Homo sapiens: one gene and its partners. The protein of the gene in region 1 purifies or fractionates together with the protein of each later gene. This does not show direct contact. Each region holds a gene or a part of one and is shown in the gene's direction. Other genes may lie near its edges. The genes, in order: TANK, KIF5C and ANAPC7.

What was found.
Region 2: the proteins of TANK (region 1) and KIF5C purify together in Homo sapiens (affinity purification with mass spectrometry, with the first as the bait; one large-scale study listed by BioGRID). This does not show direct contact.
Region 3: the proteins of TANK (region 1) and ANAPC7 purify together in Homo sapiens (affinity purification with mass spectrometry, with the first as the bait; one large-scale study listed by BioGRID). This does not show direct contact.

The regions. Positions count from the first base shown.
Region 1 is NC_000002.12:161,233,295-161,236,753, forward strand, and holds the end of TANK (TRAF family member-associated NF-kappa-B activator), read left to right. Parts: intron 1-2,047; coding exon 2,048-2,224; 3' UTR 2,225-2,936; downstream 2,937-3,459.
Region 2 is NC_000002.12:149,021,690-149,025,345, forward strand, and holds part of KIF5C (kinesin heavy chain), read left to right. Parts: intron 1-1,388; 3' UTR 1,389-3,656. UniProt on the Homo sapiens protein: Microtubule-associated force-producing protein that may play a role in organelle transport. Has ATPase activity. Involved in synaptic transmission. Mediates dendritic trafficking of mRNAs.
Region 3 is NC_000012.12:110,372,608-110,376,263, reverse strand, and holds the end of ANAPC7 (anaphase-promoting complex subunit 7), read left to right. Parts: intron 1-47; coding exon 48-198; coding exon of another isoform or gene 199-202; exon of another isoform or gene 203-790; intron 791-1,930; coding exon 1,931-2,120; 3' UTR 2,121-3,364; downstream 3,365-3,656. UniProt on the Homo sapiens protein: Component of the anaphase promoting complex/cyclosome (APC/C), a cell cycle-regulated E3 ubiquitin ligase that controls progression through mitosis and the G1 phase of the cell cycle.

The DNA.
Region 1 (3,459 bases):
GCTGAGGTGGGAGGATTGCTTGAGCTAGGTAGTTCGAGGTTGCAGTGAGCTGTGATGGTGCCATCACACTCCAGCCTGGGTGACAGAGCAAGACCCTGTCTCAAAATAATAATAATAATTTTTTTTTTAAAAAAATCCTGAGTTGTTTGTAGATAGTAGCAAAGACAAGTGAAATTTTTGGCTACATATTTCAAAATTTTACTTTCTATCAATCATTACTACTAAACATCTATTTTATATATTCAGCTATCATAACCAAGACTAAAGTATATCAGATTATTATTGTTCTATGTGATTTTCTTTTTTACTTTGCTGAGTCAGTGAGTGGGATCCCAACTAAATTCTATGAAGAGATCAAATCTGAACTAAAAGTTCTTAATAGAGAAAAATGAATATGGATTTAATAGGTAAATTGGGAGTAGAAGATTGGCTTACCAAATTTAGAAGCTAAATTGCTTCTGATTTAATTTCTTACTATTTTATATAAATAAGAATTATCTTTAATAATCTTTTATTTTTGGCCATATCAATTTCCCATTACAGTGATTTGTACTTTTTTGTTTAAACTGAAAACATTAAAATTAGAATCAAGTTAACTCTAACTAGATTTTTGTTTGTATGCTCACAATTTTTACTACTTTTATCAAAGAAGTTTTTCCAGAGAGTTATTTTACCCTAAATTTTATAACATTTATTTTAAATATTACTATTTTTGTAATAAAATTGACATTTCTTATGAAAGGAATTGAGTCAGCATTATTATAAGTCCTCCATACTGATATTTGAATGTGTCTGGGTGCCTAGACAGACGTTGTATATTTACACCAATTGTACACAGCTGTCCAGTAAACTGTTCATAAGAAGACAGTGATGTCGTGAAATCCAAGTGCTTCCATTAGTAATATACTGTTTATGTAAATGATTGGTTAACCAGAATGAAAGAAGTTAGGGGAAATAACAGTAACACTTGTCAGGTGCTAGACTAGGATGTGTGACTTTAAAAACATATTAGTAATAGGAGGATAAGGGGTCTCTTTAAATTTGACTTTATGAGATGATTCTTCTTAAAATATCAGAATTTAGCTGTGTCAGAGGAATTTACCTGTGTCCACATAAGAAATTTTAAAAAATAATTTGGTTTACACAATTCAGGAAAATATTTTCCAGTTAACAGACATCTATTGTGTAGCTATTATTAAGCTAAATGCTATTTCTTGTCCTTCTAGAAATTTAAAAAAAAGAATAAATGCAGTTATGAAAGGGTATTTATGTGCTGGTTATAGTGGAGGTGGTTCTGTTAGATTATGACTTTCCATAATTCTTTAACCAGGCAACTATTGACGAGTTTCACTTTATTCAGCCACAAGAATGAGTAAGGCCAAACTACCTATTATATAACAGAAGCAAAGTAAGAAGTCAAAACACTGCATGTGTTAGATTTTGTTGAATGATTAAATATTTGTGTTTTTAAAAACAAAAGATAACATCAGTGAAATTTGTTCAGTAGTTTAAAAGGAAAATTTTCTTTTTAAAAATCAAAATAATGCTGATTCATGTATGATGTATTCACTGTATTTGCTTATAAACAGTAGTGAAATTGATTTTGATTAAGACGCAATGCACACACACATCATGTCTTGTGTACTATGTAATTAATAAAGCCCCTATAATTTAAGGTTTTTATTGTAAAAAACAAAAGATAGAATTTAATTTAAAAGACCAGAGTATTAGCTATTGTTCCAAAACTACTGCTGTTGTGATCGAGTATTAAAAATTGCATGCTAAAGCTGCAATCTTTTTAAATATATAAAGATAAAATGCATGACTGTGTGTGTCCCAAGTGACTTTTAATCAAAGTTTAGTTGTGCCCTTTATGAAACCACGAATTGAGTCATGTCATGCTAACTTTACGGAAAAGTAATTTGCTTTTATATTAGGGAATTCAATATATATGCCCATGCGTAACTCATTCAGAAATTCAAATTTGAAGTCCAGTGCTATTTGAATTTAAACATAAGTAACAGATATTTTTGTTTGTTTCCTGCAGCCCATTTGGAAGCCCTTTCCTAATCAAGACAGTGACTCGGTGGTACTAAGTGGCACAGACTCAGAACTGCATATACCTCGAGTATGTGAATTCTGTCAAGCAGTTTTCCCACCATCCATTACATCCAGGGGGGATTTCCTTCGGCATCTTAATTCACACTTCAATGGAGAGACTTAAGACACATTTGAAAACAGACATATCAAGTTCTATGTGATGATTTTGGGTTTTTAATACTATAAATACTTGATTGTAAACTAAATTCAAGATCATTTATAGGAAAATCTAGTTTCACAGCTATTTGAATTTTTTTCTGGATTTACTATATAACTCTTATTTTTTAAAAGATCATTCTGTTCTTTCAAGGAGAAATAAGCCTAAAAGAAGAAAAACAAAAAAAATTCTGTATAAAACTGTAATCCTTTGTATTCATGTTTACAGTGCTATTACTATAATTCAAAATTATGTATGTGACTTAGAGTTATATAATCATAATTTATGTTTATTTCAAATATCTAAGTTTATTGCTTGGATTTCTAGTGAGAGCTGTTGAATTTGGTGATGTCAAATGTTTCTAGGGTTTTTTTAGTTTGTTTTTATTGAAAAATTTAATTATTTATGCTATAGGTGATATTCTCTTTGAATAAACCTATAATAGAAAATAGCAGACAACATAAACATCTTTGTAAATATCAAACCTAATACATTTCTTGTCCAGTGATAAAACAACTGGTAGAATTATTTAAACACTTTAGATTTTTAAATAATATACATGGCTTTAATTTTTACTGTGTGTATAGCTACATGATGAAATTAATTAAATATTAAGAGGTACTTATGTTGTGATCATTTGTATGTCCTTTGTTCCTGAGTAAAAAAAAAAAAAAAAAAAGGGAAGGAAGGAATCACATTTTTAGGGAAGTTTATAAAATTCATGTTTTCATTTCAGTAACCTAATAGAATGGTGATGACCAGATTTGGTGGCATTTATTACAATTAGTGAATCACTTTGAATTTTAGAATTATTCTTCAAACTAAACTTTCTAAAGAAACATTTGTTTTTAACGGGAGAAAATCTAAAACCCTGCAAGGACTATCTATATTTGTTAACTTAGATTAGAAATGTTCATATTCTTGTTGAGAAATTTGTTATTCATTGTTAGCAGCCTGATTGATGGCCACTGAAGACATTTGAGAGAGTGGATACCAAATTCAGACGGCTGCAAAATTTGTTTAAAATGAGACTTCCCTTTCATTTTTATTCCCTATGATTCTCGCCTTATAGGTTTCTGTTTTCCCCTGATTCTTAAAAGTGTTTAAGGCATGGCTTCCATTTTATGAAGTAAGCATTGATTTGCAACTCTCAGAAATTTAAGCCTTCTTGAAGCAAGTGCTTTAAACTAGAGGGTGTGGGA
Region 2 (3,656 bases), about 12 Mb from region 1:
TGCATAATGTGTCAGGTTACAGAGGGCTTTTTTTTTTTTTTTTTTTAATCAAAAGAGAAGTTGGGCTTTTCTTAGTGGCTGTTGTATTTCCAGTACCAGGTAATTCCATGTATTTCTTAAGGATAAGGCTCTACCTCCCTCTTGTCATCCCTGTCCCCATCCCCTAGAGTACCATGAGCTCTGCACAAAACCTATAGTAAGATCTCAGAGCTAGGGCCTCCAGCCGGTGACAGGAAACAGAGCCTTTCAGTGTCTTCTGAAAGTTGAGCTTACTGATGTTGGGTGCAGGCTGACAGAGGCCATTCAGGCTGGTCTAGACGTTCATCCTGGAGATGCGCCCAGCACCAGCCGAACTTCTGGTGGGAAGTGGAATGAAATGGACAGGGGTGGTCTTTTGGAGAATCTTATTATCCGATGGAGACGAAGCATACCTTTGGGAACTGGGAACCTCTTTCTACAGAGAGTCTGGGTTAGGGGCCTTGTTGCACCTGCTTGCTATCCTAAGTGCAGGCAAATGAGAAATGTTTTAATTTCCCCCTAGGAATGAGAAAATGCATTATGTTACTCTGAATATCCATAGCCTCAACAGATACCGACTTATGGAAGAGAATGTTGAGACTGTCAGGACTAAATACTTAAAGCAAAATCAGGAAATCGGAGGTTGTGCTGTTCATGTGCCACTATCCACATGTGTCTTTTGAGCTCTCAAAATGTGGCTAAGTCCAAATTGAGATGGGCTGAAAGTGTAAAATATACACCAGATTGCAAACACTATTGTGTGAAAAAAAAAATCTCAGTAGTAATATTGTAATGTAAACGATCTCAACATGTAATACCAGTTACATGTTGAAATACTATTTAGGCTATATAAAATATATTACAATTAATCTTACCTATTTCTTTTCACTTTTTAATGTAGCCACTAGAGAATTTAAAATTAAATATGTGGCTTGGCCGGGCACGGTGGCTTATACCTGTAATCCCAGCACTTTGGGAGGCCGAGGTGGGTGGATCACCTGAGGTCAGGAATTTGAGACCAGCCTGGACAACATGGTGAAACACCGTCTCTACTAAAAATACAAAAATTAGCCGGGTGTGGTGGCAAACCCTTGTAATCCCAGCTACTTGGGAGGCTAAGGCAGAAGAATCACTTGAACCCGAGAGGCAGAGGTTGCAGTGAGTCGATATCGCGCCACTGCACCCCAGCCTGGGTGACAAGAGTGAAACTCCATCTCAAAAACAAACAAACAAAAAATATGTGGCTTGTGTTATATTTGTATCTGACAGCTCTGGTCTAAACATCTAGAATTAAACAAAACTTTTTTGAGGAGTAAATTTCTACTGTGTTTTCTAATTCCTATGTTCTCTCTTTGGTTCTCTTTCAACAGATATGACTCCACGTAGCATGTCAAGGACTACATTAATCACCAATTCCTTTATTTTTCCCCCCCTACAGTTTCCATTTTTTTTTTATACTTGCTTACTCCAGCCATCTGCAGTACACCAGTTTCAGGTCTTTTGAGCTGTGTAGAGTTTCTGTGTGTACAGATGTGTGCTCGGACTTTTCTCTTTTTGAGAAATCTGAAGGAGATGGTTGCAGAAGATCCACTTACTACTGAGAACCATTACCACCGACTCGGCCTCCGGGGTGTTGGGTGGTTTCTGGGTGGTTCCTGGAGCCTCCTCTGGGCAGTGCACTGTCCCATCTGTACGCCCTAATGTGCCATTCCCTAGAGGGGAACAACCAAGTGCCGTGGAGGCAGATGATCATGGTCTGCCTCAACTGTCTGGTTTCCTGTAAAATAAACACATTGTTTTATATTTTTAGGGAACAAAAAGTGCTGCTATAGGGTTCAAAGTTTTCCTTCTGAACACTTTTCCGAAACAAATTACCCCAAAGACACATTTTGAATATCCTGGTCACATCTTTGGATCTGTAAAATATACCTTTTAGTATGGCACCTGTTAAAATGCAAAGCAAATTTCTTTGGGGCAGAAAAACAATCTGACAGTAGCAGTGTAGAATTTGTTCATTCAAATACATCTGTGTAAATGCAAAAAGTCATAAAATTCACCTCCGAGCTGCTTGCTTTTGAACCTGCAGCAACTAGTCTTAGCCGGCCCGGTTTGAACATCGTTCTTTCAGAAGTGCTGAAAATGCTGCAAAGTTGGATAAGTGGAAATGTGGCTGCCCCTCTCCTCACTACTTCCTCTCTGATCGTTCTGAAGCTTGCATTGGGAATGGCTGCTTTCTCTAACCATTTTCAGCTTGAGTGGGTATTGCTGAAGAAATCCAACATCATTCCAGCAGTTGAAAAAGGAAGCCTTCGGGAGAAAGTGCTTGTCAAAATTTTGTTCTTTGTGCTTGTGTATGAGTAAGTTGCCATGAATAAGTTATTATTTTAACCCATAATTGGCGACTGTTTATATGAATTCTTTCTTTGGCACCAAATAGGTTTCATCTTCTTAGGCACAATTAGAAAAAATCCACATAGATGGATATTTTACATTTAGTTATTGCTTTATCCAAATACATGAATCTAAAGCTGAATCAACCCTTACTTCCAGTTGTGCTTATTAAGAAGATCAATTTCCAAGTAGTAAAGTTTTCAGGGAAACTGACTGTGCTGCTATTTGTTTTGACAAATTTGGGGGTAAGTCAATGACAACCAAACCAATCTCGGTGGAAACTCCTATCCTATCATGTTGTGTGCCCAAGATGAGTGAGCTGGCACTGTGCCCTGAAGCTTTCACCACTGTAATGAAATATATGCCAGGGGAGACTTTGGGCTTTTCTCATGACTGTGTGGGTCGAAGGTAGCTCAAGTGTGTGTGTGTGTGTGTGTGTGTGTGTGTGTGTGTGTGTGTGTGTATGTGTGTAAAGTGCTAAGAACTGTGCATTGACATCCAAACATTTCTTGTACAAAATTTCCCTAGCAAAGCAAACCTGCTTTGACTTAATTTATTTGTTAAATGTTGCACTTTGTTTATGTATGTTTTGTTTTTGGTGGGGAATAAGGAGAGAGAGGACGACAAATTCTATTGAAGTATTTATTTTGTGAAGATGGCAATTTTGCATTTGTTTAAATTTTTTTCATTCTTTAATTTTGTTATCAGTGCCAGCCCAATATACCTGCTCTACCATTATTTGCGGTCTGATAAAAGGGTCCTTGTGGGGCAGGTTTTGCAAAGCTTATCAGGTAATAACATATGCCACATAACCTTGTTGATATGTTTGCTTCTGATTTGGGAAGCTAAACATTGGTGTTTGAGAGGATTGCCAATTATTAATTGTCATTACCACTACTCTCCATTACTTTTTGTTTGGAAATTGAACAAAGGTCAGTAATGGTTTTTGGCTCTTGTTAATATCCATCATAAAATAGATTGTTTTAGATTCTTTCCAGGGTGATTTTTCCCTGGGTACCCCGTTTCTACTTCTAAAGAATTGCTTGGCACTTTCATGTTTCAAAGGGAAACATTCGCTTGTAGTTCCATTTTACTTGATCTCTACAAGGGACTGACAACATTTGCTTTACTTTTATTCACAGAGAAAGTTGGCTTTGATGTCTCTTAAAGATAATTCTGCTAGTTGCTGATCAGCCAGTCAGTTCACCTAGCTTCAATCTTTATAGGACTTCTAATCTAATTTTCCT
Region 3 (3,656 bases), on another chromosome or scaffold:
GGTTTTTTTGTACATGACTTAAGTGAGGGTCTTTTTTATTCCCCCAGGCAGAGAACAGAAATATGAAGATGGAATTGCTTTGCTGAGGAACGCACTGGCTAATCAGAGTGACTGTGTCCTGCATCGGATCCTAGGAGATTTCCTTGTAGCTGTCAATGAGTATCAGGAGGCAATGGACCAGTATAGTATAGCACTAAGGTAGGCACTAGCCTCCCTTGGGGGAAGGCCACTGAGGAGGGTAGAGGAGGCAGTGAGCTGTGTCACAGGAGTTATGGAAACACACACACACTTTGTGTCCATGGTTGAAAGCAGAATAATAATAGTAATGGTAGAAGAGTTATTTGTGAATTCATGACTTCTAAAAATTTTTTCTTAAAATATATTAACAACATTAGAGAACTGTTTCACTCATAACCATCCCACACCACTATAACATCTGTGTTCATTTGTATAGCTCATCTTCTGTCCTTGCCCACACACACATATTTTTATAGGGCTGTACCTAGTATATATTTTATATTCTTCTTTTTCAAATCAAAGTATTGTAAGTACTTTCCCATGTTTCTATCTACTGTAGTCATTAAGAACTTGAGGTCTGAAGTTTTGAATACTACCTTCACCACCTGTGATCTTGGGCAAGTTACTAACACATTTCCTTGTCTATATCTAGCTACCTTATTAGATATTAAATGATCGAATGAGGGTTAAATGATTATTTCATGTAAAGCTCTTAGCCCTGTGCCTGGTACATAGTAAATGCTAAATAAATAGTGGTATTCTTACTGTTTAATACAGAAGTGGTTTCTTTGAGGGTTGTCTGTGTGTCTGTAAGGTTATGGTGAAGGGCTGTCTTTAATAGAGTCTGATCACATTCAATTGTTCAGCACACAGTTGAGCACCACTTGTGTGCCTAGCATCTCAGTGACAACTGGAGATGCTATGTTTCGGGAGCTGTCAGTCTCAGACATGCAGACTGGCCATGCCATGTGCTAAGGGCTTTCATAGTAGTCTGTAGAAGGGAAGGTGGGAGTCCAGAGGGCAGGAGCCCTGGGTATGGGTGAGAGCTTCAGAGTACAGGATGTGGAAGGCTTCAACCAGGAGACGAGGAGATGTTACAGATCGGTCCGCATTTATATCGGTAGAAACGGTGCCAACATGGGTTTTAGCTGCTTTTTAGAATCTCAGAAGCAAGTGAGAAAATAAAATATCAGACTTCCATTAGAGGTGGGGTTTGCTAGGCGTGGGACGCCTGCTGGCTTGGGTGATGGTCACTAAGGCAAGAGGAAAGATTGCTTAGGAGGCAAATAAATGAATGTTCTAGAGGCTCTGAACTTTGGGGGTGGGGGTGGCGTATGTACTGACACTCAGCTGCTAAATGTGAATGCTTGGGTAGGGGTAGCCTTGGGTCCTGGGGTCTGACCTAGGTGTTTACAAGTCTGTTCCATGGTACAGCGTGATGTTTTTGGTTGGCTCCTGAAATGCTGCTATGTTTAATTACATCATAAGAACATGGGACACCTATACTCAGAGAAATTCCTATTTTTTGTAACCCTGTAGCTCTAAAACCCAACTTTCTGGGAATTCCATTTGAATTTACCTGGTAATGTTTGTTTGCCACTTTTTCATTTGTGTTATCTGGTAGCCGCCTCTAGCAGAATGCTAGGGGTAATAGGTATGAAAAAGTTTAAGAAATTTGTGGAGAAAAACTCAAATTGAGAACTCTAAAAATTAGGAAGAGACTCCTTTTTGCACTTCTGGTGGTGGACTCCCTCAACCCAGCCTTGGAAGCCTGAGTTGTTTGGAGAGGCCAGGCTTTAGCACATTTTTTGGGACTGTGTGGTCATTTCACTGCCGGGCCAGGGAGATGACGAATCAGCCAGCAAGAGCAAGGCAGAGATTCAGGCCTCTCCTTTGTTTTGTTGTCCCCTAGTTTGGACCCCAATGACCAGAAGTCTCTAGAGGGGATGCAGAAGATGGAGAAGGAGGAGAGTCCCACGGATGCCACTCAGGAGGAGGATGTGGACGACATGGAAGGGAGTGGGGAAGAAGGGGACCTGGAGGGCAGCGACAGTGAGGCGGCCCAGTGGGCTGACCAGGAGCAGTGGTTCGGCATGCAGTGAGGGGGCGGCAGCTCCATGGCCGCAGTGGCCTGCCCTGCTCTGAGCACTTCCGTGGACTGAAGGAACCGTAGGAGCCTGCTCTCAGAAGGACAATGATTCAGCATGTGATTGCAGCAGGGGTCTCTGCCCCCTCGCTCCCAATTCCTAGTCGTGACTTCATTTCTAAAACAGAGCCTGACCAACCTTCCATGTATCTCCATCCTCCCCTGCTCCAGCCAGGGAGGACTGAGGGAGTGCCCCGAGACCCACGCACATGTTGGGGCTTCTGGGCCAAGAGTACTTTTTATATAACTAATTTCTAAATCCAAAAGCTCAAGGAATAGACAGTGTTCTGTGACATGGATTGGTTTGAAGGAGTTACCCACCATCCCAGCACGATAATGTCATCTCCCAAGTTGGATGGCAGCACGATCTGGCCCTAGGGAGCTTCCTGTTCCCAGAAGTCATTGTCCTGGGCTATCCAGATGTCCCTAGTAAATCTTGCTTCCTTCTGCAATGTTAGTAATGCCTTAAGCTGACAGTTGCTATTTTGCAGAACAGTTTTCCTCTTTGCTTAGCTAGTAACTTGCCTCTGAGCCTGGGCTGATCTGAGAAACAGGTGTGACAAGAGCATGAACCAGAGGTGCACCTGGGGCAGTTCCCTAATAAAACTGGTTTGTACAGTCATGGTGTTGGGGTGATCAGAATGGAAGCCCTTTTCAAAATAGACTCTTAGTATTTTTGTCTTATTCGCAATGCATTGATTCAGCCCCAGAATTATTTGCCAGAAATAGACTTTCTTCCCCTGGTGTTGGGAGCCAGGAGGGTTGGAAAGCTCAGGAACCCTGAGCTGGTTCATCTGTTTGCATATTGGGTAGGTTAATTTCCCTGGAGCCTGAGAGTCTTTGGCCAGATTTCAGCTGCGTCTGCCTGGCTCTTTTGCTGCAGCTGTGAGATTGGGGTCTGGTTCCAGCAGTCTGTCACTGGTCAGCCTGAGTATCACACCCTGAGCTCTGGGGCTGGGAGTTTCTTCCCACACCCTCTCCCTTGTGCCTTAAGTTGCGATGGCTCTGAGTATACAATTAATCGGAGGTGAGGGGTGGGTGTCACAGCTAATCCCAAATTCAAAAATTAGTCCAAGGTGCTGCAAAATATAAATTTGATGTCAGTAGAAAGTCGTATCCTAAAATGTAAAAACTGTAAGTGTACAGTAGTTAATGAGCTCAGAACATCTGATAACTGCAATTTAAAATGGGCAAAAAGTTTCTATGAGTCTTTCAGTCTAAGACCCAAAGCCTGCGCAACATCACTTGATCTGAGCCACTTCTAAAGAGACATATAAGGCTAGGCGTGCTCACACCTGTAATCACAGCACTTTGGGAGGCCGAGGCGGGTGGATCACTTGAGGCCAGGAGTTTGAGACCAGCCTGGCCAACATGGTGAAACCCCCGCTCTGTTAAAAATACAAAAATTAACCGGGCATGGTGGTACACACCTATAATCCCAGCTACTCAATACTCAGGAGGCTGAGGCAGGAGAATCACTTGAACCCAGGAG